Regions from separate parts of the Homo sapiens genome. Here region 2 is linked to region 1. The links come from fine-mapping of genetic effects on gene expression. A gene starts in region 1. The other region holds a variant in brackets. All regions are shown on one strand. Distances are between the middles of the regions. Region 1 holds the start of BEAN1-AS1 (BEAN1 antisense RNA 1). Region 2 has its middle 26 kb from the start of BEAN1-AS1.

Evidence for each region. PIP is the estimated chance that this variant, and not a neighbour inherited with it, causes the effect.
Region 2: its variant is the best candidate, but not a certain one, in a credible set for the expression of BEAN1-AS1 in whole blood (INTERVAL, PIP 0.75).

Annotation. Positions count from the first base shown.
Region 1 is chr16:66,469,119-66,480,814 of GRCh38, forward strand. BEAN1-AS1 (BEAN1 antisense RNA 1) reads right to left here and starts at 7,284. Exons shown (of 3, transcript NR_109960.1): 1 at 7,146-7,284; 2 at 6,484-6,560; 3 at 678-944. It overlaps BEAN1 (brain expressed associated with NEDD4 1), which reads left to right. Exons shown (of 5, transcript NM_001178020.3): 3 at 484-747; 4 at 8,442-8,592; 5 at 11,468-11,696. LOC124903698 reads right to left here. Exons shown (of 5, transcript XM_047435016.1): 2 at 9,890-11,301; 3 at 8,826-8,999; 4 at 6,484-6,560; 5 at 1-944. RefSeq lists a silencer at 7,355-7,454 and enhancers at 7,960-8,501, 9,042-9,582, 10,664-11,203.
Region 2 is chr16:66,496,079-66,507,774 of GRCh38, forward strand. No RefSeq gene overlaps it. Among named protein-coding and RNA genes, the nearest start is that of BEAN1-AS1, 26 kb to the left of the region's middle. The variant G/C (reference allele first, on the strand shown) is at 6,906.

The DNA.
Region 1 (11,696 bases):
CAGCCCACAGCCCCAGGCCTGCCTGAAGCCGGCAGAATCGTTACTCATACTCTGTCCCCCTGTGCATCCCCCACTGCTTCCTAAGACATTGGTAAAATCATGTTGACCTTTCAACTTGTCTAGCTCTAAGAGTCTTGGATTCAAGCCTCAGCTCTACCACTAATTTGCTGGGTAACCTTGGGCAAGTCCACTGCCCTCTCTGAGCTTCCTGTTTCCTATCTGTGAGGTAGTTCAGCTTGTGGGCAGAGGCTTCAGAGGAGAGGAGGGACAGTCAGCCCTCACTACCAGAGGCTCCTGCAGGCAGCGGAGTGAGGTGCTGCTCTCCTTCTCCCCCAGGAGCAGCCAGGATAGAGTCCGTGGGCCTGAGCCCAGACCCTCCTCCATTTATTTAGGGAGCAACAGCTCACAGGGCAGCACGGGCAGAGAAGGAAGGGGTGTGGCAGGCCTGGGCTCCAGCTCAGTGTCCTCTCTCTCTGTCCACAGTAGCACGATACAACCGCACCAGCTACTTCTACCCCACATTCTCAGAGAGCTCGGAGCACAGCCATCTGCTCGTGTCCCCCGTGCTGGTGGCGAGTGCCGTCATAGGTGTGGTCATCATCCTCTCCTGCATCACCATCATTGTGGGCAGCATCCGCAGGGACAGGCAGGCCCGGCTTCAGCGGCACCGCCACCGCCACCACCGCCACCACCACCACCATCATCACCACCGCCGGCGTCGACACCGAGAGTACGAGCACGGCTACGGTGAGCCGCCGCCCACCCTGGGGCCCTGGGACCTCATCTGACTGGGATTGCAACACAGGAGGCATCAAGGAGTTGGCAACTCTGCCCTGGGTGGAGCAGGGTGGTCGGGAAAGCATCCTAGAAGTCTTGGGTGGTCAGGAAGAGCTCACAGGCGCCCACCATAATGTTCTCGGTGACATGAGAGGCCCGGATGACTGCTAAGAGAGAAACTCAGAGTGAGGCTGAAGGTCAGAGGGAGAGTGTGTCACTCCTCCCCTGCCACTGTTGGTCCAGGCTGCACCAAGGGCTGGTCCATCTGGTGTCTCGATGGATGGATGGATGGATGGATGGATGGATGGATGGATGGATGGATGGTTGGGTGGAGAGATGAGTGGATGAATGAAGAGAGGAATGGATGGGTGAGAAGGGAGAAGGACTCGTAGGAAAATGGATGGGTGAGGAGTGAGGTGATGGATAGATGGAGGTTGAGTGGAAGAGTCAGTGGATGGGTGGAGAGATGGATGGGTGGAGAGTATGAATGGATAAATGGGTAGATGAAAGGATGGATGAATGAGAAAATGGAGGGATGGATAGATGGGTGGATTGAGTGTTATGCCTGAGTGGAGAGATGGAAGGGAGGGTTGAGTGGAGGAATGGAAAGATAAATAGGTGGGCAGTGGGATGGGTTGATGGGGGTGAATATATGAATAAGTGAATGGGTGAATTTATGGAATGAATGATGAGTGAATAAAACTATCCCTGGTGAGAGTCAGCAGAGTGCAAATAGAACTGATCTGAGGGTCTCCCAGTTGTTGGGATCACCCTTAAACAGAGTTGGTGGCTAATTCTTGGGTGACCAGTCCCAAATCTGTGCATGTGGCTAGAATGCCTGAACTTTTTACAGAACGCAGCCACCTGACTGTGTCACTCCTGGAAGGGGCCAGCTGTCTAAGGCAGCAGGAAAAAATTCAATTGCATTCCATTCTCAGACGATTTTCAATGGCAGGAAAAAGCCAGACTCTTCCTTCCCAAATCACCATCCACAGGCCTTCAGGGGCCTCTGCCTAGGTCCAAGGCCACCACCAGATAGGGAAAAGAAAAGCAGGACCTTGGAGGTGCTTAACAGCAGTAGGCACCCTTCACACTGCAGGGTGAAGTGATGCCAACCTCCTAGGAGCCAGAGCCATGGCCAGACCTGAGGCGTTTCCCTCTCCAAGGCAGGAAAAGCTTGGGGAAAAGAAAGATAGGAAAAATTTTTAAAATAGATTGAATTGGATCCGATCAGCCCTGGCCTTTGGGGCCCCTCCTCCCCCTCCCAGACACACCCTGATTAGCCAGGTTTGGGGTATTTCCTGTCCTTTTTCAGAGTTAACTGGTTAAGGAGGGGACTGATGGGTAGCTGGAGCTGGTGAACAGGAGCCTGGGTAGTAATGGCCAGTGAGTAAGGAGTGCTTGCTGGGTGCCTGGCGCTGTCTGTGCACATAATCTCACTGCAAAATCCTCACCATGGTCCTAGTGAGATGATAACTCACTTGAGCCCAGGCAGCCTGACCTGGCACCCACAGGCTGCCCCGCTGCACAGCACTGCCCAGGAAGGGAGCTGGAGGTGTCGGGGAGACGCCCCTGGGAGCCGCCCCGTGGGCTCAAGGCAGTGTCCGGCAGACACGTACATGGCCACAGTGGGTGTCACTCAGACCTGGATGTTGCTCCCCTGGGAAAGCTGTTAGGAGAATCAGAAGAGCAGGAGGCTGGACCTTGTGTAAGACACAGAGGGACATCCCGGGATGAGTCGGACAAGTGGCCACAGTTGAGGAAAGACACAGCAGGCTAGTGGACTGTTCTCACTGTCCAACAATGAGGATCAAAGAGAAAGTTCAGCATGAATAAAACAGATGTGGAAAGCTCAGCCCACCCAGTCTCTGCAAGTCTCCCCAGAAGCCAGGGACTCCCCAAGGAGACAAGCCAGAAGCACTCCCAGGCCAGGACGGGCCTGTCCCACCCCTGCATCACCAACCTGAGGCTGCAGAGTCCAGGGCTCCTGCCCAGAGCATGCCCATCCCCTGCAAGAGAAACCCAGGTCCCCAAGCCCTGGAGGATGCCGGGTAGACCCAGGATGGTCAGTCTGCCGCCTGCCCCTCGCACAGCCTGGCCCTTGCCCAGCTCCTCCCACTCTTTTCCAGTCCCCTGTCCATGCTCCTTCCAGCCTCTGCCCTTTGCCTGGGCTCTTCCCTCTGCCCTGACTGCCATTCCCTGGCCTTCTCGAACCGAAAAAAAGCCTTCCAGGCCCCGCTCAAAGGCTGCCTCCTTATGGGAGCTTGTCTGGCCTCTCCTCACACCTACCAGGCAGAGCTGGATAGGTGTCCCCCTCCTCTGTACCTCCTCGGCATTGCACCCATGCCTCCCTCAGTGTCTTGGTCATGGGGTGATTGTGCTGCATCCATGAGAGCAGGGCCCACAGGTGACTCGTCCCCAGACAGGCTCAGGCCTGGAGGAAGCGCTCCATGGGCAAGGTAGGAGCCACTGTATTTTATCCTCAAGGCAAAAGATGTAGTTGCCCCCTTTAAAGACTAGGAAACTAGTCAGGTGCGGTGGCTCATGCCTGTAATCCTAGCACTTTGGGAGGCTGAGGCGGACGGATCATCTGAAGTCAGGAGTTCAAGACCAGCCTGGCCAACATGGCAAAACCTTGTCTCTACTAAAAATACAAAAATTAGCTGGGCATGGTGGCACATGCCTCTCATCCCAGCTACTCAGGAGGCTGAGGTACAAGAATCGCTTGAACCTGGGAGGCATAGGTTACAGTGAGCCAAGATCATGCCACTGCACTCCAGCCTGGGTGGCAGAACGAGACTCTGTCTCAAAAAATAAAAAGTAAATAAAGAATAGGAAACTGGGCTGGGTGCCATGGCTCACACCTGTAATTTCAACACTTTGGGAGGCCAAGGTGGGAGGATCACTTCAGACCAGGAGTTTGAGACCAGCCTGGGCAACACAGCAAGACCCCATCTCTACAAAAAAAATGTAAAAATTATCCAGGTGTGATGGCACATGCCTGTAGTCCCAGCTATTCAGGAGGCTGAGTCGGGAGGGTCCCTTGAGCCCAGGTCAAGGCTTCAGTGAGCTATGATCTCACCACTGCATGCCAGCCTGGGTGACAGCAGAGAGAGACCCTGTCTCTAAAAAAATAAAAAAATTAAGACTGGGAAACTGAGGCACAAAGAAGCAACTTGTTCAATGACTTATCTTGGAGTGCACGCTAGGCGCCCACAGTAGTTCCCAAGCTGAGAGGGCTGAGGGGTTGGCCTTGGCGCAGAGGAAAGAGATGGGCTTAGGGGCAGGCCAGCCCCTCTGTAGCCTGTGGTGGCCTCGGGACTGGTGCCAATGAATGAGGCCTCGGCTCTGTCCCTGGGGTGGGTGGGATGACTGAGGTCACAGCTCTGCCAAGCGGGGTCAGGCCTTGGCTTCCCCACTGCAGCCTGTGGTGGTGGTGACCCCTGTGGGGTTCCGGCCTCCCTGCCCCACTTCTGCACTCGGCTACAGCTTTGACACCTCCTGGGGCCTCGGCAGGGAACCCAGAGGTGCTGTTGCCCCATATCTTCCCCCAGCCTTCTGGAGGATGCGCAGGGGCTGCCGGGAGCCTTGGGAGGGTGCCAGGGAAGAGGGAAACGCACTGTGAGCAGCTGTGGGAGAACATGAAAGCGGCACCACCAGGCGCGGTGCCTCACACCTATAATCCCAGCACTTTGGGAGGCCAAGGTGGGAGGATAGCTTGAGCTCAGGGGTTTCAGGCTGCAGTGAGCTACGATCACACCATTGCACTCCAGCCTGAGCAACAGAGCAAGACCCTGTCTCTAAATAAATAAATAAATAAATAAATAATAAATAATAAATAAAGAGGGAGGGGCAGTGTACCAGTGAACCCCAACCTTTGGCACTGGGCCCCTTCCACCTGTCAGACACACTCACAGCCCCCCAGCTCTGGTGACTCAAGCCCTCCTGGCCTCTCTCCCACCCCTCTGGCTGCGGATTCCTCTCCTCTGTCCCTTTATAAGTCAAGGTCCCTCAGATCCCACACCTTGGTCCTGGTCCTCTCTCTACACCCACTCCCTGCTCCATCTCATACACCATCCATCATCCTCCCTTACCTAGCTCCAGCCCGCAGGTCAGCTCCAGAACTGCATGCCCAGAAGTCCCCTGGACATCACCCTGTGAAGCCCCACAGGCACCTCAGGCTCCAGGTGTCCACAGAGGCCTGATTTCCTACTTCCTATGCGCATCCTCAGGAAAGCTGCCAAAACTCTCTTTGCCTCAGGCGAGTCATCTATAAAACTGGTGCAAGAGGATCCACCTCAAACAGTTATTGTGAGGACTAAATTAGCACAGCACCTGGCTAATGGGTAAATACATGCTCAATAAATGTGAGCTATTTTCATCATCTCTTTCTCCAAGAAAACCTGCTCCCAGGCCACTGCACTAATGTCAGCTGTCCCTGCCTGCCAGCCACCAGCCTGGCACCTCCAAGGCATTCTCCACAAGGCAACCAAAGTGACAGGACTGTGACCACTTCCCAATGGCTCCCCATCACCCTCAGGACAGAGTTGGCCCTCTGCCTGCCCACAGAGCCTTTCTGTAGTCTAGCCAGACACAGAGAGGAGCCACAAATCTTTGAGAATGAGATGGGGGTGGGGGAGGAAGAAGAAAGAGGGAGGGAGAGAGGGAGGGAGAGAGGGAGGGAGAGAGGGAGGGAGGGAGGGAGGGAGAGAGGGAGGGAGGAAGGGAGGGAGGGAGGGAGGGAGGGAGGGAGGGGAAATAGAGAAGAGAGAAAGAAAGAAGAAAGAGAAGAGAAGAAAGAAGAGAGAGAAAAAAAGGAGAGAAAGAAAAAGGAAAAAGAAAGGAAAGAGAAAGAAAGAAAGAAAGAAGAAAGAAAGGAGAGAGAAGGAAAGAAAAGAAAATTCTGTCATTCTGTTCCATCTTGAGCTTTAAGAGAGATCTGGTGGCTGACTCTGTCTCCTGTCACTTCTGCAGGTTTAGAGCAAGTGACTTCACTCTCGGTCTCTTCATCTGGTGGAAGGGGTAACCACTGCTCTCCTCCCACAGTGGGGTGTGAGGTAGATGAGATCATAGAGATTGAGCACAGCAGGTGCTCATGAGTGCCAGTTCCTCTTCCTCCCTCTCCCAGAGCCTGTCAAGGGGCAGTGAACTTGGAGTGATGTTAAATAATGAACCAAGGTATCGGGGTAAACAGGAGGTTTCAGCTTATGTGAAGTGGGAAGCAGGGCTTCCGGAGTCCTGGACTATTTGGATCTGTGCCGACAGGGAAGTCAGGAGAGAAGGGAAAAGAAGGGATTTGGGAAGTTCAAATGGGAGTGGCGGGTGCAGGTTTCTTTCCAGCTGTCTCTCAGGAGCTCTGCCCAGCTGGATGTCTCAGGTTTGGGGTCTGAGCACCTTAGGGCAGCCTCAGTTTTCCCAAGATGCTCCCCTCTGGGAAGTCCAAGAAAAAGCAGCCCAAGAAGAAAGGGTAGATAGCAGTTTGCTCCAGCTCTAACAGCCCTCAGCGCTGCCCACCCAGTCACTCCTCTCAGGTCCAGGAAGCAGCCCTGACTTTCCCCAGGGATCCCTGTGTGACAGGCACACCTGCTGCCCTGCAGGTGGAACCCTCCCTGAACCCAAAAACCCTTCCCTGGCAATGCTGGCTGGTGGGGCGAAGGGGTACCTGGCACCCAAGCCCAGCAGCCCTGGTTCAACTTCCAGTCTCACCTTGTTGCTGTGTGCTGTTGTCTTTTCTTAGTTTCTTTCCTAAGTTCTTCCAAAAATTCTGTCTCTCAGCTGGTGCCCTGAACAGGAGAAACAAATGGCATTTCAGCTCCTTTTTTACAGCATATGTTATTGACTTCATTTCTCCTAGTAGAAAAGTAATGTGTGTTCATTATAGAAAACCTTAAAAATATAGACAATATAAGAAAAGAAATATAAAGAAATAAATAGGCCAGGCGCGGTGGCTCACGCCTGTAATCCCAGCACTTTGGGAGGCCGAGGCGGGCAGATCACGAGGTCAGGAGATTGAGGCCATCCTGGCTAACACGGTGAAACCCGGTCTCTACTAAAAATACAAAAAATGAGCCGGGCGTGGTGGCGGGTGCCTGTAGTCCCAGCTACTCGGGAGGCTGAGGCAGGAGAATGGCGTGGACCCCGGAGGCGGAGCTTGCAGTGAGCTGAGATCGCGCCACTGCACTCCAGCCTGGGCGACAGTGAGAGACTCCGTCTCAAAAAAAAAAAAAAAGAAAGAAAAGAAAAAAAGAAAAAGAAATAAGGGTCATGATCCTCTGTCATCTGGACAGGGCCACCATCAACGTGTTTGGAATATTTTCTTCTGAGAGCTTTCTCGGTGTCGGTATATAACCCTGGGATTGGAATTGTACCTGCAGATAGAGTTTCATATCCAGATTCTTCCACTCACTATTATATGAAGAGTGGGAAAAAGAGTTTAGGGGAGTGGGAAGAGCAGTCTTTGGGGTTATACAGAGTGCATAAATTACAACTCCATGCTTCACCACGTATGTGACCCTGAGTATCAGCTTCCTTGTCTGTAGAATGGGGATGGCAACTGCGCCACTCACAGCAGAGAAAGGTTATAGCTCCGCCCCTGATGCCAAGCCCCACCCCCAGAGGGGAGGAGGCACCTGGGAGCCCTGGACTGAGGAGACCTCGTGTCTCAGCCACCTTTGCAGCTCCCACTGTTCCCATCCAGGACGATACATGTCAGAAACTGGGCTGTAGAGAGCTTAGCAAGGAGGAGCCAAGACATCCAGCTGCCCTCTGGCCCAACCACTCACTGTGTGTTGTCCTCCAGCAAGTCACCGGGCCTCCCAGAACCTCAGCTGTGGAATGAGAGGATTGTGCTCCAGCAGCATTTCCTAAACAGTGTTACTAGGTCTAAGAAAGGAAGATTCTGAGGTCGAATGCTGGACAGGCACAGTTAAATGTGTTTTTTAGCTGCAGGACTTTTCAGAGCCTTTGATGTCCTGGTGCATGGTAAAAAATGCAGAGGAGAATGCAGTGTGGGGAGCTGCCAGACTCATCATAGAAGCCCCTTTTTTTCCCCAAGATACCTAAAGGGCAGTGAGTGTGGGAGGGCTGATCCCAGAGTTCTCTGAAGCCCTCATTCCTTGCTACTCTCCACCGCATTTTCCATGCCCAGCCCAACTCCACAGCTCAAAGCTCCCTGTTCACACCACACTCTTCTTTCTTATCTCCCTCCTTGGAAAGCTATTCAGTTCCCTCCTCCCGGCCTTCCCCTCTTCCCCTGGTTAAATCCTAGACAAGACTCAGCTGTAGCAGCCCCTCCTCCAGGAAGCCCTCCCTGACTTCCAGACTGGTCAGGCCTGCCTTTACTCCCACAGTCCCAGTAGGACCTCTACCAAAGCTCATGACACACTGCCTAGTGCCAGGTTATCCCCAAAGCAGGCTGCCACCACCTTGGGAGCTGGCCAGGACAGGGCCAGCTCTGCTTCCTCTCTGTATCCCCATGCCCAACACGACAATGGCACCCACATTCTGGAGCTGTCACTGATGGATGAAGGCAGCTGTGCTTGGTGAGGAGAGGAGTGGTCAGGTGGGGAATCAGAGCCTCCATGGCCCCAGGTAGACCTACAGACCCATAAGGACCATCCCTGGATCCTGGTCTGAGGCCCAGGCCGGTGGTCTGTTCCCTGCAGTGTCGGACGAGCACACATACAGCCGCTCAAGCCGCAGGATGCGCTATGCCTGCAGCTCCTCAGAGGACTGGCCCCCACCCTTGGACATCAGCTCTGACGGGGACGTGGATGCCACGGTGCTCAGGGAGCTGTACCCAGATTCTCCACCAGGGTAAGGAGGCCTCATGGGGAAGGGGGCATCAGAGGATGGGGCCCTGGACACAAAGACCCCCCAACTCCATCATGGGAAAGAGTGGCACCTCTGCATGTCGTATAAATGCAGAAAACATCTGCTCAGTGGGCATGGCCACCTCCTCCCCACTCCTGACCAAGTAGGTCCCACTGAGGCAGTGTGACTTAGCAGATATCACCTGGAAGTGCTAGGAAAGGAAGAGACAAGCCCACCTCCTCAGGCTGTTGAGTAGGCATGCCGGGAATGCCCCTGCAGTTTCAGGGGAGGTTCCGTGGCAGCTGTTCTGAATTCCCTGGGGATCTGCTCCTCCGGGTGTCTCCCTCAGGGTGGGAGGGAAGGCCAGAGGAGTATCTGGCTATTTCCGTGGCTGTGGGATCAACTTCCCCCTAGGGAAAAAAAACTGTATTGTGTTTCTATAAATAACACCAGGGACTGGGGGGTAAAGAGGGGACAAGCCCATATGCTGACATCTGATGGCCCCAGGTGCACTCGCTCTGGAAATTGTTTCTTGTATGATCATGAGCAAGTTACTTAATCCCGCTGTGCCTGCTTCTCCATTGTGGAAATGTCCATGTAATAATACCTGCCCCAGCCGGGCGTGGGGGCTCACGCCTGTAATCCCAGCACTTTGGGAGGCTGAGGTGGGGGATCACGAGGTCAGGAGATCGAGACCATCCTGGCTAACACGGTGAAACCCCATCTCTACTAAAAATACAAAAAATTCGCCGGGCGTGGTGGCGGGCGCCTGTAGTCCCAGCTACTTGGGAGGCTGAGGCAGGAGAATCGCTTGAACCCGGGAGGCGGAGGTTGTAGTGAGCTGAGATCGCACCACTGCACTCCAGCCTTAGCGACAGAGTGAGACTTCGTCTCAAAAAAATAATAATAAAATAATAATAATAATATCTGCCCCACAGGATACTCATGAAAATGACACAGAAGTGCCAGTAAAATGCTCAGCAAGGCACTGGCTCTTCCCACCAGTGGTGTCGTTACTATTTCGAGGCCACAGGTGATAACTATCATGCTGAGGAGGACGAGGGGAGGGGATCAGGGAGGATGGGCTGACACAGGAAATCGGCCTTTGTCAAGGGTGTGTGGTGCTTGGGTTGGGAGGAACTGGGACCTTCAGAGATACAGAGGAGGGTGTGACCAGCAGAGGGCACAGATGAGCAAAGGCCCAGAGGCAGGCGAGCACGCGTGTGCCACGCTACAGAGGGCACAGTGGGGTTTGACCTCCTCTCCCCTTCCCCTGCCCTGGCTTTCCAGTCATACCCACCTGGGTTTGAGCCCATCCTGGACGCCGCCCAGGTTGATGCTCTCAGGCATGTCACTGTGGCTCTCAGGGGCTCCATTTCTTTGTTTATGAAATAAGGACAAATAACCCTGCTTCCTGGGTTTTCCTGGGAAGGAAGATACTGTGGGTATCTGGGGATGTGGCTCAGGGTTAGACCTGAGCCCTTGGTTCCTGAGGCCATAGCCTGAGGACACAGGCACCTCCCCCATCCCCAGCTGCCTCTGCCCGGTGCAGCTCATCTAAAGGACAGGAACAGGTGGGGCTGCTTCTGATGGAGGTGGAGGTGCACAGATGCCCTGGGGGTGCCTGGGAGCCAACTTCTCCCTGAGTCAGAGCAGAGGGTTGGGTTGGCCTCAGGCACGAGGGGATGCCCCAGCTGCAGGCCTCCATTGTGGTCAGGCACCCCCAAGGCTGGTTGGGTCCAGTGCCTGGACAGGGCTGGGTAGGCATGAGGCAGGGGTGGAGAGGGGTGGGGAAGGTGGGGGCACGACTACGAAGACAGAGGTGATTCCCCCTCCAAACACACACACACACATACATGCACACACGAACACATACACGCACACACCTTCCGAGACCTCCCAGGCAACAAGGGTCTGGCTGAGCCTGGGGTCTCTGTGGCCTCACCTGTAGCCACTGAGGCAGAGACTGGCCTTAGGGATCAAGACGGGTTCCTCTCAGAGAAGTGGGGGGTCATGGAGCCAGAAGGAGGGAGTTATGCCCTCAGCTCCTGAGGACCCCAGAGACAGTGGCAGTGGGAAGAGAAAGGACAGGTGGAGCTTGTGGCCAGGAGGGCCCTGTGCCTGTGATCATGCCCACAGGAGTGGCTGTGTCCAAACTGCCCTCAGGGCCCTCAAGCAGCCCCCTCCCCATGGGGAGCTCTTCTCTGGAGGGCTTTTGTTCCTCTCCTGCCAGCCCCCCTCAGGCAGATCACCCATCAGTACTCGAAGAGGGAAAGGGGTCAGGGCCTCCACCATTCCCTGCTAGGAGACCCCTCCAGCCCTGGATGAATGGCCCGTGTCCTCCTCCTTGGCCTTCCACCTTCACCCCTGCCCCAGGGGCTCGAGCAGGGGTGGTGCTGCCAGTCCTTTCGGGGCAATGGGTGCTCTTTTGCTCTGCATCTGTGGGTTCAGAGGGGCCCAGGGGACTCTTTCCTAAACTGAGAAGGGGAACTTTGGAGTGGCTGGAGACCAGGGTGTCTGGTAGCCTGAGGTTGGTCCTACCCAGCCTCTGCACACCCAGTGCGCTGCGGGGAGATGCTCCCTAGACAGTGGCCACTGCTGTTTCGAGGCACCGCAGACCCAGGCAGCTCAGTGTTCATGCGTTGAGCTCACACCGCATATGAGGGCTGAGTCAGGTCCCAAATCCAGGTCCCAGGGTTCTGAGGTCCCCCTCTGGAGATGGAGGGAAGTAGCAGGGTTTCATTGGAGCCAGCGTGGACAAGGCCCACCCTGGTCCACAGCCAGGACAGCTTGTCACTGCAGATAGACCCCCAGGCCTTTGGGAGAGACCCAGCCCTAAGGCCTAGGTGGGGCACTGAGGGAGCCTCTTCTCTCGTAGCTACGAGGAGTGTGTGGGGCCAGGGGCCACTCAGCTGTATGTCCCCACGGACGCACCACCACCCTACTCGCTGACTGATTCCTGCCCCACGCTGGATGGCACCTCCGACTCAGGCAGCGGCCACAGCCCTGGCCGACACCAGCAGGAGCAGAGGACCCCGGCCCAAGGTGGCCTTCACACGGTCTCCATGGACACCCTTCCCCCCTACGAGGCTGTGTGCGGGGCTGGC
Region 2 (11,696 bases), 27 kb after region 1:
AGGTACCGGGTTCATCTCACTGGGGAGTGTTGGAAAGTGGGTGCAGGACAGTGGGTGCAGCGCACCAAGCATGAGCCAAAGCAGGGTGAGGCATCGCCTCACCCAGGAAGCGCAAGGGGTCAGGGAATTCCCTTTCCTAGTCAAAGAAAGGGGTGACAGACGGCACCTGGAAAATTGGGTCACTCCCACCCTAATACTGCGCTTTTCCAATGGTCTTAGCAAATGGCACACCAGGAGATTATATCCCGCGCATGGCTCAGAGGGTCCTACGCCCACGGAGCCTCGCTCATTGCTAGCACAGCAGTCTGAGATCAAACTGCAAGGTGGCAGCAAGGCTGGTGGAGAGGCGCCCGCCACTGCCAAGGCTTGAGTAGGTAAACAAAGCAGCCAGGAAGTTCGAACTGGGTGAAGCCCACTGCAGCTCAAGGAGGCCTGCCTGCCTCTGTAGACTCCACCTCTGGGGACAGGGCACAGCCAAACAAAAGGCAGCAGAATCCTCTGCAGACTTAAATGTCCCTGTCTGACAGCTTTGAAGAGAGTAGTGGTTCTCCCAGCATGCAGCTGGAGATCTGAGAATGGACAGACTGCCTCCTCAAGTGGGTCCCTGACCCCTGAGTAGCCTAACTGGGAGGCATCCCCCAGTAGGGGCAGACTGACACCTCACACAGCTGGGTACTCCTCTGAGACAAAACTTCCAGAGGAACGATCAGGCAGCAACATTTGCTGTTCACCAAAATCCGCTGTTCTACAGCCTCTGCTGCTGATACCCAGGCAAACAGGGTCTGGAGTGGACCTCCGGCAAACTCCAACAGACCTGCAGCTGAGGGTCCTGACTGTTAGAAGGAAAACTAACAAACAGAAAGGACATCCACACCAAAACCCCATCTGTACGTCACCATCATCAAAGACCAAAGGTAGATAAAACTACAAAGATGGGGAAAAAACAGAGCAGAAAAACTGGAAACTCTAAAAATCAGAGTGCCTCTCCTCCTCCAAAGGAACACAGCTCCTCACCAGCAACAGAACAAAGCTGGACGGAGAATGACTTTGACGAGTTGAGAGAAGAAGGCTTCAGATGATCAAACTACTCCAGGCTAAAGGAGGAAGTCCAAACCCATGGCAAAGAAGTTAAAAACCTTGAAAAAAAATTAGACGAATGGCTAACTAGAATAATCAATGCAGAGAAGTCCTTAAAGGACCTGATGGAGCTGAAAACCAAGGCATGAGAACTACGTGACGAATGCACAAGCCTCAGTAGCCAATTCGATCAACTGGAAGAAAGGGTATCAGTGATGGAAGATCAAATGAATGAAATGAAGCGAGAAGTTTAGAGAAAAAATAATAAAAAGAACACAGCCTCCAAGAAATATGGGACTATGTGAAAAGACCAAATCTACATCTGATTGGTGTACCTGAAAGTGACGGGGAGAATGGAACCAAGTTGGAAAACACTCTGCAGGATATTACCCAGGAGAACTTCCCCAACCTAGCAAGGCAGGCCAACATTCATATTCAGGAAATACAGAGAATGCCACAAAGATACTCCTTGAGAAGAGCAACTCCAAGACACATAATTGTCAGATTCACCAAAGTTGAAATGAAGGAAAAAATGTTAAAGGCAGCCAGAGAGAAAGGTCGGGTTACCCACAAAGGGAAGCCCATCAGACTAACAGCTGATCTCTCGGCAGAAACTCTACAAGCCAGAAGAGAGTGGGGGCCGATATTCAACATTCTTAAAGGAAAGAATTTTCAACCCAGAATTTCATATCCAGCCAAACTAAGCTTCATAAGTGAAGGAGAAATGAAATACTTTACAGACAAGCAAATGCTGAGAGATTTTCTCACCACCAGGCCTGCCCTAAAAGAGCTCCTGAACGAAGCACTAAACATGGAAAGGAACAACTGGTACCAGCCACTGCAAAAACATGCCAAACTGTAAAGACCACTGAGGCTAGGAAGAAACTGCATCAACTAATGAGCAAAATAACCAGCTAACATCATAATGACAGGATCAAATTCACACATAACAATAATGTAAATGGGCTAAATGCTCCAATTAAAAGACACAGACTGGCAAATTGGATAAAGAGTCAAGACCCATCAGTGTGCTGTATTCAGGAAACCCATCTCACGTGCAGAGACACACATAGGCTCAAAATAAAGGGATGGAGGAAGATCTACCAAGCAAATGGAAAACAAAAAAAGGCAGGGGTTGCAATCCTAGTCTCTGATAAAACAGACTTTAAACCAACAAAGATCAAAAGAGACAAAGAAGACCACTACATAATGGTAAAGGGATCAATTCAACAAGAAGAGCTAACTATCCTAAATATATATGCACCCAATACAGGAGCACCCAGATTCATAAAGCAAGTCCTTAGAGACCTACAAAGAGACTTAGACTCCCACACAATAATAATGGGAGACTTTAACAACCCACTGTCAACATTAGACAGATCAACGAAACAGAAAGTTAACAAGGATATCCAGGAATTGAACTCAGCTCTGCACCAAGCGGACCTAATAGACATCTACAGAACTCTCCACCCCAAATCAACAGAATATAATTCTTTGCAGCACCACACCGCACCTATTCCAAAATTGACCACATACTTGGAAGTAAAGCACTCCTCAGCAAATGTAAAAGAACAGAAATGATAACAAACTGTCTCTCAGACCACAGTGCAATCAAACTAGAACTCAGCATTAAGAAACTAACTCAAAACCGCTCAACTACATGGAAACTGAACAACCTGCTCCTGAATGACTGCTGGGTACACAACGAAATGAAGGCAGAAATAAAGATGTTCTTTGAAACCAACGAGAACAAAGACACAACATACCAGAATCTCTGGGACACATTCAAAGCAGTCTGTAGGGGGAAATTTATAGCACTAAATGCCCACAAGAGAAAGCAGGAAAGATCTAAAATTGACACCCTAACATCACAATTAAAAGAACTAGAGAAGCAAGAGCAAACACATTCAAAAGCTAGCAGAAGGCAAGAAATAACTAAGATCACAGCAGAACTGAAGGAGATAGAGACACAAAAAACCTTTCAAAAAAATCAATGAATCCAGGAGCTAGATTTTTGAAAAGAACAACAAAATTCATAGACTGCTAGCAAGATTAATAAAGAAGAAAAGAGAGAAGAATCAAATAGATGCAACAAAAAATGATAAAGGGGATTATCACCACCGATCCCACAGAAATACAAACTACCATCAGAGAATACTATAAACACCTCTACGCAAATAAACTAGAAAATCTAGAAGAAATGGATAAATTCCTCGACACATACACCATCCCAAGACTAAACCAGGAAGAAGTTGAATCCCTGAATAGACCAATAATAGGCTCTGAAATTGAGGCAATAATTAATAGTTTACCAACCAAAAAAAGTCAAGGACCAGATGGATTCACAGCCGAATTCTACCAGAGGTACAAGGAGGAGCTGGTACCATTCCTTCTGAAACTATTCCAATCAATAGAAAAAGAGGGAATCCTCCCTAACTCATTTTGTGAGGCCAGCATCATCCTGATACCAAAGCCTGGCAGAGACACAACAAAAAAAGAGAATTTTAGGCCAATATCCCTGATGAACATCGATGCAAAAATCCTCAATAAAATACTGGCAAACTGAATCCAGCAGCACATCAAAAAGCTTATCCGCCACGATCAAGTGGGCTTCATCCCTGGGATGCAAGGTTGGTTCAACATACACAAATCAATAAACGTAATCCAGCATATAAACAGAACCAAAGACAAAAACCATATGATTATCTCAATAGATGCAGAAAAGGCCTTTGACAAAATTCAACAACTCTTCATGCTAAAAACTCTCAATAAATTAGGTATTGATGGGACATATCTCAAAATAATAAGAGCTATCTATGACAAACCCACAGCCAATATCATACTGAATGGGCAAAAACTGGAAGCATTCCCTTTGAAAACTGGCACAAGACAGGGATGCCCTCTCTCACCACTCCTATTCAACATAGTGTTGGAAGCTCTGGCCAGGGCAATCAGGCAGGAGAAGGAAATAAAGGGTATTCAATTAGGAAAAGAGGAAGTCAAATTGTTCCTGTTTGCAGATGACATGATTGTATTTGTAGAAAACCCCATTGTCTCAGCCCAAAATCTCCTTAGGCTGATAGGCAACTTCAGCAAAGTCTCAGGATGCAAAGTCTCAGGATACAAAATCAATGTGCAAAAATCACAAGCATTCTTATACACCAATAATAGACAGAGAGCCAAATCATGAGTGAACTCCCATTCACAATTGCTTCAAAGAGAATAAAATACCTAGGAATCCAACTTACAAGGGACGTGAAGGACTTCTTCAAGGAGAACTACAAACCACTGCTCAATGAAATAAAAGAGGATAAAACAAATGGAAGAACATTCCATGCTCATGGGTAGGAAGAATCAATATCATGAAAATGGCCATACTGCCCAAGGTAATTTATAGATTCAATGCCATCCCCATCAAGCTACCAATGACTTTCTTCACAGAATTGGAAAAAACTACTTTAAAGTTCATATGGAACCAAAAAAGAGCCCACATTGCCAAGTCAATCCTAAGCCAAAAGAACAAAGCTGGAGGCATCACGCTACCTGACTTCAAACTATACTACAAGGCTACAGTAACCAAAACAGCATGGTACTGGTACCAAAACAGAGATATAGACCAACGGAACAGAGCAGAGCCCTCAGAAATATTGCCGCATATCTATAACCATCTGATCTTTGACAAACCTGATAAAAACAGGAAATGGGGAAAGGATTCCCTATTTAATAAATGGTGCTGGGAAAACTGGCTAGCCATATGTAGAAAGCTGAAACTGGATCCCTTCCTTACACCTTATACAAAAATTAATTCAAGATGGATTAAAGACTTAAATGTTAGACCTAAAACCATAAAAACACTAGAAGAAAACCTAGGCAATACCATTCAGGACATAGGCATGGGCAAGGACTTCATGTCTAAAACACCAAAAGCAATGGCAACCAAAGCCAAAATTGACAAACGGGATCTCATTAAACTAAAGAGCTTCTGCACAGCAAAAGAAACTACCATCAGAGTGAACAGACAACCTACAGAATGGGAGAAAATTTTTGCAATCTACTTATCTGACAAAGGGCTAATATCCAGAATCTACAATGAACTCAAACAAATTTACAAGAAAAAAAACAAACAACCCCATCAAAAAGTGGGCAAAGGATATAATAGACACTTCTCGAAAGAAGACATTTATGCAGCCAAAAGACACATGAAAAAAATGCTCATCATCACTGGCCATCAGAGAGATGCAAATCAAAACCACAATGAGATACCATCTCACACCAGTTAGAATGGTGATCATTAAAAAGTCAGGAAACAACAGGTGCTGGAGAGGATGTGGAGAAATAGGAACACTTTTACACTGTTGGTGGGACTGTAAACAAGTTCAACCGCTGTGGTAGTCAGTGTGGCGATTCCTCAGGGATCTAGAACTAGAAATACCATTTGACCCAGCAATCCCATTACTGGATATATACCCAAAGGATTATAAATCATGCTGCTATAAAGACACATGCACATGTATGTTTATTGCAGCATTATTCACAATAGCAAAGACTTGGAACCAAGCCAAATGTCCAACAATGATAGACTGGATTAAGAAAATGTGGCACATACACACCATGGAACACTATGCAGCCATAAAAAATGACGAGTTCATGTCCTTTGTAGGGACATGGATGAAGCCGGAAACCATCATTCTCAGCAAACTATCGCAAGGACAAAAAACCAAACACCACATGTTCTCACTCATAGGTGGGAACTGAACAATGAGAACACATGGACACAGGAACGGGAACATCACACACTGGGGCCTGTTGTGGGGTGGGGGGACGGGGGAAGGATAGCATTGGGAGATATACCTAATGTTAAATGACGAGTTAATGGGTGCAGGACACCAAGATGGCATATGTATACATATGTAACTAACCTGCACGTTGTGCACATGTACCCTAAAACTTAAAGTATAATTTAAAAAAAAAATTAAAATTAGCCAGCCATGTAGTCCCAGCTACTCAGGAGGCTGAGATGGGAGGACTGATTGAGCCCAGGAGCTCAAGGCTGCAGTGAGCCGTGATTACACCACTGCACTCCAGCCTGGGTGACAGAGTGAGACCCTGTCTCTTAAAATAAATAAATGGAAAAAAAAAAGAACAGGCTGATCTGGAGGCAGAGCAGGTCAGCAATCTCAGGAGGATGAGGCAAGAGGTTGCGTCAGCTTGGAACCATGACAGCCACTCCAAGGCATATCCCCCAGGGCACCTGACCTGCAGCAAAGGAACCTGGGAGAGCAACTTAGGCCAAGGATTCCAGGGGCAGGAAAGGCGAGCTAATTATTTTTTTTTTATTCATTCTTTTCTGACCATTAACATAATAAGCATGCTTATTCCAAACCAAAACAGAACTTTTGCTCTCTCCACTAAGCCTGCCGCTCCCGCATTCCCCATCTGGGTAAATGAGTCCACCATCCACTCACTCACTCCAATCCAATGCAGACATCACCCTTGACCAACATATATCTCTCTCTCCTCTCTCTTTCCTCCTCCCCCCGCTCTCTCTCTCTATCACATCCTTCATCCAATTCCTAGCTCCTCTCTTTCACAACAGAGTCTGAATCCAACCCCTTCCCCCCTCCTTCCACAGTAACCAAATTCACCATCCTCTCTCACTCACGTCCCTGGAGGCTGCCAGCCTTCTGCAGCCTGTGCTCCACCCGAATGCTGGAGGATTCCGTTAAACCTACATTAGGGCTGTGCGTGGTGGCTCATGCCTGTAATTCCAGCACTTTGGAAAGCTGAGGTGGGAGGACTGCTTGAGTCCAGGAGTTTGGGACCAGCCT[G/C]GGCAACACAGAAAGACCCCGTCTCTATATATTTAAAAAATAAAATAAAATAGAAAATGTTAAAAAAAACAAAACAAAACAAAAAAAAACCACCTACATTTGATCATGATTCTCATGTGTTCAGTTCCCTCCAGGGGTGCCCGAGGCCATATCAAGTCCCAGGCTCAGCCCCTCACTTTCCCTCTGAACTCATCTCAGGTCCCTTCCCCATTGTCCGCTGTAGCCAGAGCCACCCTGGCTTCTGCAAGGTTCTGGAACATGCTGAGCCTGGCCCTATTCCCAGCCTCTGCACAGACTGTTCCCTCTGCTCTGTCTCCCTACCCTACCCTGCCATGTTCTCTTCCTTGTTATTCACATCTCCCCTTAAATGTCACCTTCTCAGAGAGGCCCCCTCTGACCATCTATCACATCAGCTTAATTTTCTGCACAAAGATTTTAATTCATGTATTCATTTTCCATTTCCCCCCATTAGAAGATAAGCTCCATGAGAGATAAACTTCATCTTGTCTCATTCACCGTTATTTCCAAGGATCCACCATATTAAACCATCAAATGAGTAGAAAACTTAGAAAGTACAGATGAATATGAAAACGAAAGCAAACCTTACCATAATTTCCACCATTCAGCGATACCCAATGTCACCACATTCCTGCAATTCCTCCCAGTCTTTTTTCTATATACGCATATATTAAACATTTGGGATTGTAATATTTACAGTGTTGTGCTCTGCCTTTATTTCCCATGAAGGGCGTTATTCTAACTAATTTTAGATGGAGAGAAAAGTTGCAAAATAGTACAAAGAACTCCTTTCCACTCCTGGCCCTGCTTCTCCTAAAGTTGACATCTTACGTAACCATAGTATAATGATCAAGAACAGGAAATTAATATTGATACAATGTTCTTAACTATACTACAAACCTTATTTAAGTTTCCCCAGTGTTCCATTAATATCCTTTCTCTATTCCAGGAGCATATACAGGATCCCACATTGCACTGAAGTTGACATCTTATGTAACCATAATATAATGATCAAGAACAGGAAATTAATATTGATACAATGTTATTAACGATACTACACATATTATTTAAGTTTCCTAGTGTTCTATTAAAATCCTTTCTCTATTCCAGGAGCCCATCCAGGATCCCACATTGCATTTGTATATTTTCCTTTGTCTCCTCCAGTCTGTAATAGTTCTTGTTTTTTCCTTGTCTAACACGATCTTGATGCTTTTAAAGAGTTTTTTCCAATCAGTTATTTTGTTGAATGTCCCTCCATTTGGGTTTGTCTGGTGCTTTCTTAATACTGGAGTCAAGTATGCATTTCTGGCAAGGATACCACACCAAAAAAACAAATGATGCTGCCAGGCATGATGGCTCACACTGTAATCCCAGCACTTTCAGAGGCCAAGGCAGGCAGATCACTTGAGCTCAGGAGTTCAAGTCCAGCCTGGGCAACATGACAAAAGCCCTATTCTACAAAAAATACAAAAAATGGCCGGGCGCGGTGGCTCACGCCTGTAATCCCAGCACTTTGGGAGGCCGAGGCGGGCGGATCACGAGGTCAGGAGATCGAGACCATCCCGGCTAAAACGGTGAAACCCCGTCTCTACTAAAAATACAAAAAAATTAGCCGGGCGTAGTGGCGGGCGCCTGTAGTCCCAGCTACTTGGGAGGCTGAGGCAGGAGAATGGCGTGAACCCGGGAGGCGGAGCTTGCAGTGAGCCGAGATCCCGCCACTGCACTCCAGCCTGGGTGACAGAGCGAGACTCCGTCTCAAAAAAAAAAAAAAAAAAAAAAAAAAAAATTAGCCAGCCTGGTGGCACACACCTGTAGTCCCAGCTCCCCGGGAAGCTGAGGAGGATCACCTGAGCCCAGGAGGTCGAGGCTGCAGTGAGCTGTGATTGCGCCACTGCATTCCAGCCTGGGTGACAGAGTGAGACCCTGTCTCAAAAAAAAAAAAAAAAAAAAAAAAGATGCTGTCCTCAGTGCATCTTTGTAAAGGCTTCATGATGTCACTACGTCTTATTACCTTAATCACTTATTAAGCTGGTTTCTATGGGGTTTCCATCTCCACTGTCAAATTAGTTAATTTCTTTCCCTTTTTACTTGATAAGTATATTAGGGGAAATAGAAACTATGCAAATCTTGTTTTTCCTCAAACTTCTGTCCACTAATTTTAGTATCAACAGGTAAATCTTGTCTGTGATTTTATATATATATATATATATATTTTTTTTTTTTTTTTTTTTTTTTTTTTTTCCCTAGACGGAGTCTCCCTCTGTCACCTAGGCTGGAGTGCAGTGGCACGATCTCGGCTGACTGCAAGCTCCGCCTCCTGTGTTCACGCCATTTTCCTGCCTCAGCCTCCAGAGTAGCTGGGACTACAGGCGCCCGCCACCATGCCCAGCTAATTTTTTGTATTTTTAGTAGAGACAGGGTTTCACCGTGTTAGCCAGGATGGTTTCGATCTCCTGACCTTGTGATCCGCCTGCCTCGGCCTCCCAAAGTGCTGGGATTACAGGCGTGAGCCACCGCACCTGGCCTGTGATTTTTTAACTGTGGTGTTTATGTAATGGCAAGTCTCTGTTTCCCTCTTGCCTTTTGTGTGTATTAACTGGAAATCTACCATAAGGAAGCACTCCCTTTCTTCCCTGTTTACTTATTTCTTCAACTGTTTATATCAGCATGGATTCGTGGATATTTATTTTAGTCTATGTGTTAGAATCCAATACTAACATAATTTATTTTGTTCCTCAAACTGTTCCAGCTTTGGCCGTTAGGAACTTCAGGCAAGCTCCTCAATTCCCTTGACATGGCTCCATCATCCCCCCACATCCCTGCACTTTCTTTCTAGCACCACAAGATATTCCAGGGTCATCCTGTCATTCCCCTGTGGCATCCCTGGAATCAACCACATCTCCTAGGAGACCTGGTTCCTTTTGCAGGAGAATGATGTTTGGAGACCAAGAACTGGGTACCGGGTGTGCTCACTGTTACTGGGTGCCATTGCCTCTAGACACACTCAGGACAGAGCTAGGAAACATAAGTATGTATACTAAGCACACATAAACACACACACACACACACACACACATCTATATTTCTGTATCCATCTATATATAATTTTATTTATTATTTATTTAGAGACAGGGTCTTCCTTTGTTACCCAGGCTGGAGTGCAGTGGTACAATCACAGCTCTCTTCAGCCTTGAACCCCTGGACTCGATCTATTCTCACATCTCAGCGTCCCAAGTAGCTGGGACTACAGGCGCACACCATCACACCTGGCTAATTTTTGTATTTTTTGTAGAGATGGGGTTTTGCCACATTGCCCAGGCTGATCTCTAACTCCTGGGCTCAAGCTATTCACCTGCCTTGGCCTCCCAAAGTGCTGGGATTACAAGAGTGAGCCACCAGAGCCTAAAATTTTAAAATCATGAGTTTAGACTGACACCTCCTATTCTAACCCAGCACCACGGGGTTTATTCTAGACCCCTATCATTTGTAACCTCTTTCACTAACAGTAAGAAATCCAGCCCTCATAGTCTACAATCTATTTACTTGTTTGTTCAACTTTAGTATACATAGTTTCAGAATCACTAACCTATACTCCTGTGAGAAACATTTTTTTTTGCCCATTGCAACCTCTGCCTCCTGGGTTCAAGCAATTCTCAGCCTTCCGACATAGCTGGGATTACAGGCGTGCACCACCACGCCCGGCTAATTTTTGTATTTTTAGTAGAGACAGGGTTTCACCATGTTGGCCAGGCTGGTCTCTAACTCCTGACCTCAGGTGATCCGCCCATCCTGGCCTCCCAAAGTGCTGGGATTACAGGTGTGAGCCACCACGCATGGTCGAGAAACATTTTTAATAACTATACTACAACTTTTATGTACAGAAATTTTTGCCTTTACTCTTACCATATCCAGTAAAGATACTGTTTTCCACAGTTATTTGTTAGTTCTGTTCTTTCCTGCCCCCTTCAGTATGGTTATGTTACTCACCTGCGGTATGGTGGAGTTCATCTGTAATTTTGTTTTCTGTTTTCCCTACATCCTGGTTGCTCTTATTTATTTTGGCAGTATGTGAAGGGTATGTGAAACATTGCTACATCACAGTATGTAACAGTCAGTTATAGAAAAAGACATTTCAGGCTGGGTGCAGCGGTTCACTAATCCCAGTACTTTGGGAGACCAAGGTGGGCATATCACTTGAGAGCAGCCAGGCCAAACTGGGGAAACCCTGTCTCTACTATTAGCCAGGCGTAGTGGCACACACCTGTAATCCCAGCTACTCAGGAGGCTGAGGCACGAGAATCACTTGAGCCTGGGAGGTGGAGCTTGCAGTGAGCCAAGATCACACCACTGCACTCCAGCCTGGGTGACAGGGCGAGACCCTGTCTCAAAAAAATAAATAAATAAAATAAAAAGATATTTCAAAGAAGTGTCATTCCCTTCTCATCCCTGTAGCCCAGTCTCATCCTTCCCTTCTTTCTAGCCTTTACCCACCAACCTATTTTGTCTCTGGGCGTCCTTCCTATATTTCCTTTGCATCTGTGTATTTTCTTCTATCGGTTTTCTTTTTATTTTTCGAGATGGAGTTTCATTCTTGCTGCCCAGACTGGAGTGCAATGGCGCAGTCTCGGCTCACTGCAGCCTCCAACTCCTGGGTTCAAGTGATTCTCTTGCCTCAGCCTCTCAAATAGTTGGGATTACAGGTGCCCACCACCACGCCTGGCTAACTTTTTTGTATTTTTGGTAGAGATGGGGTTCCCCCATGTTGCAGGCTGG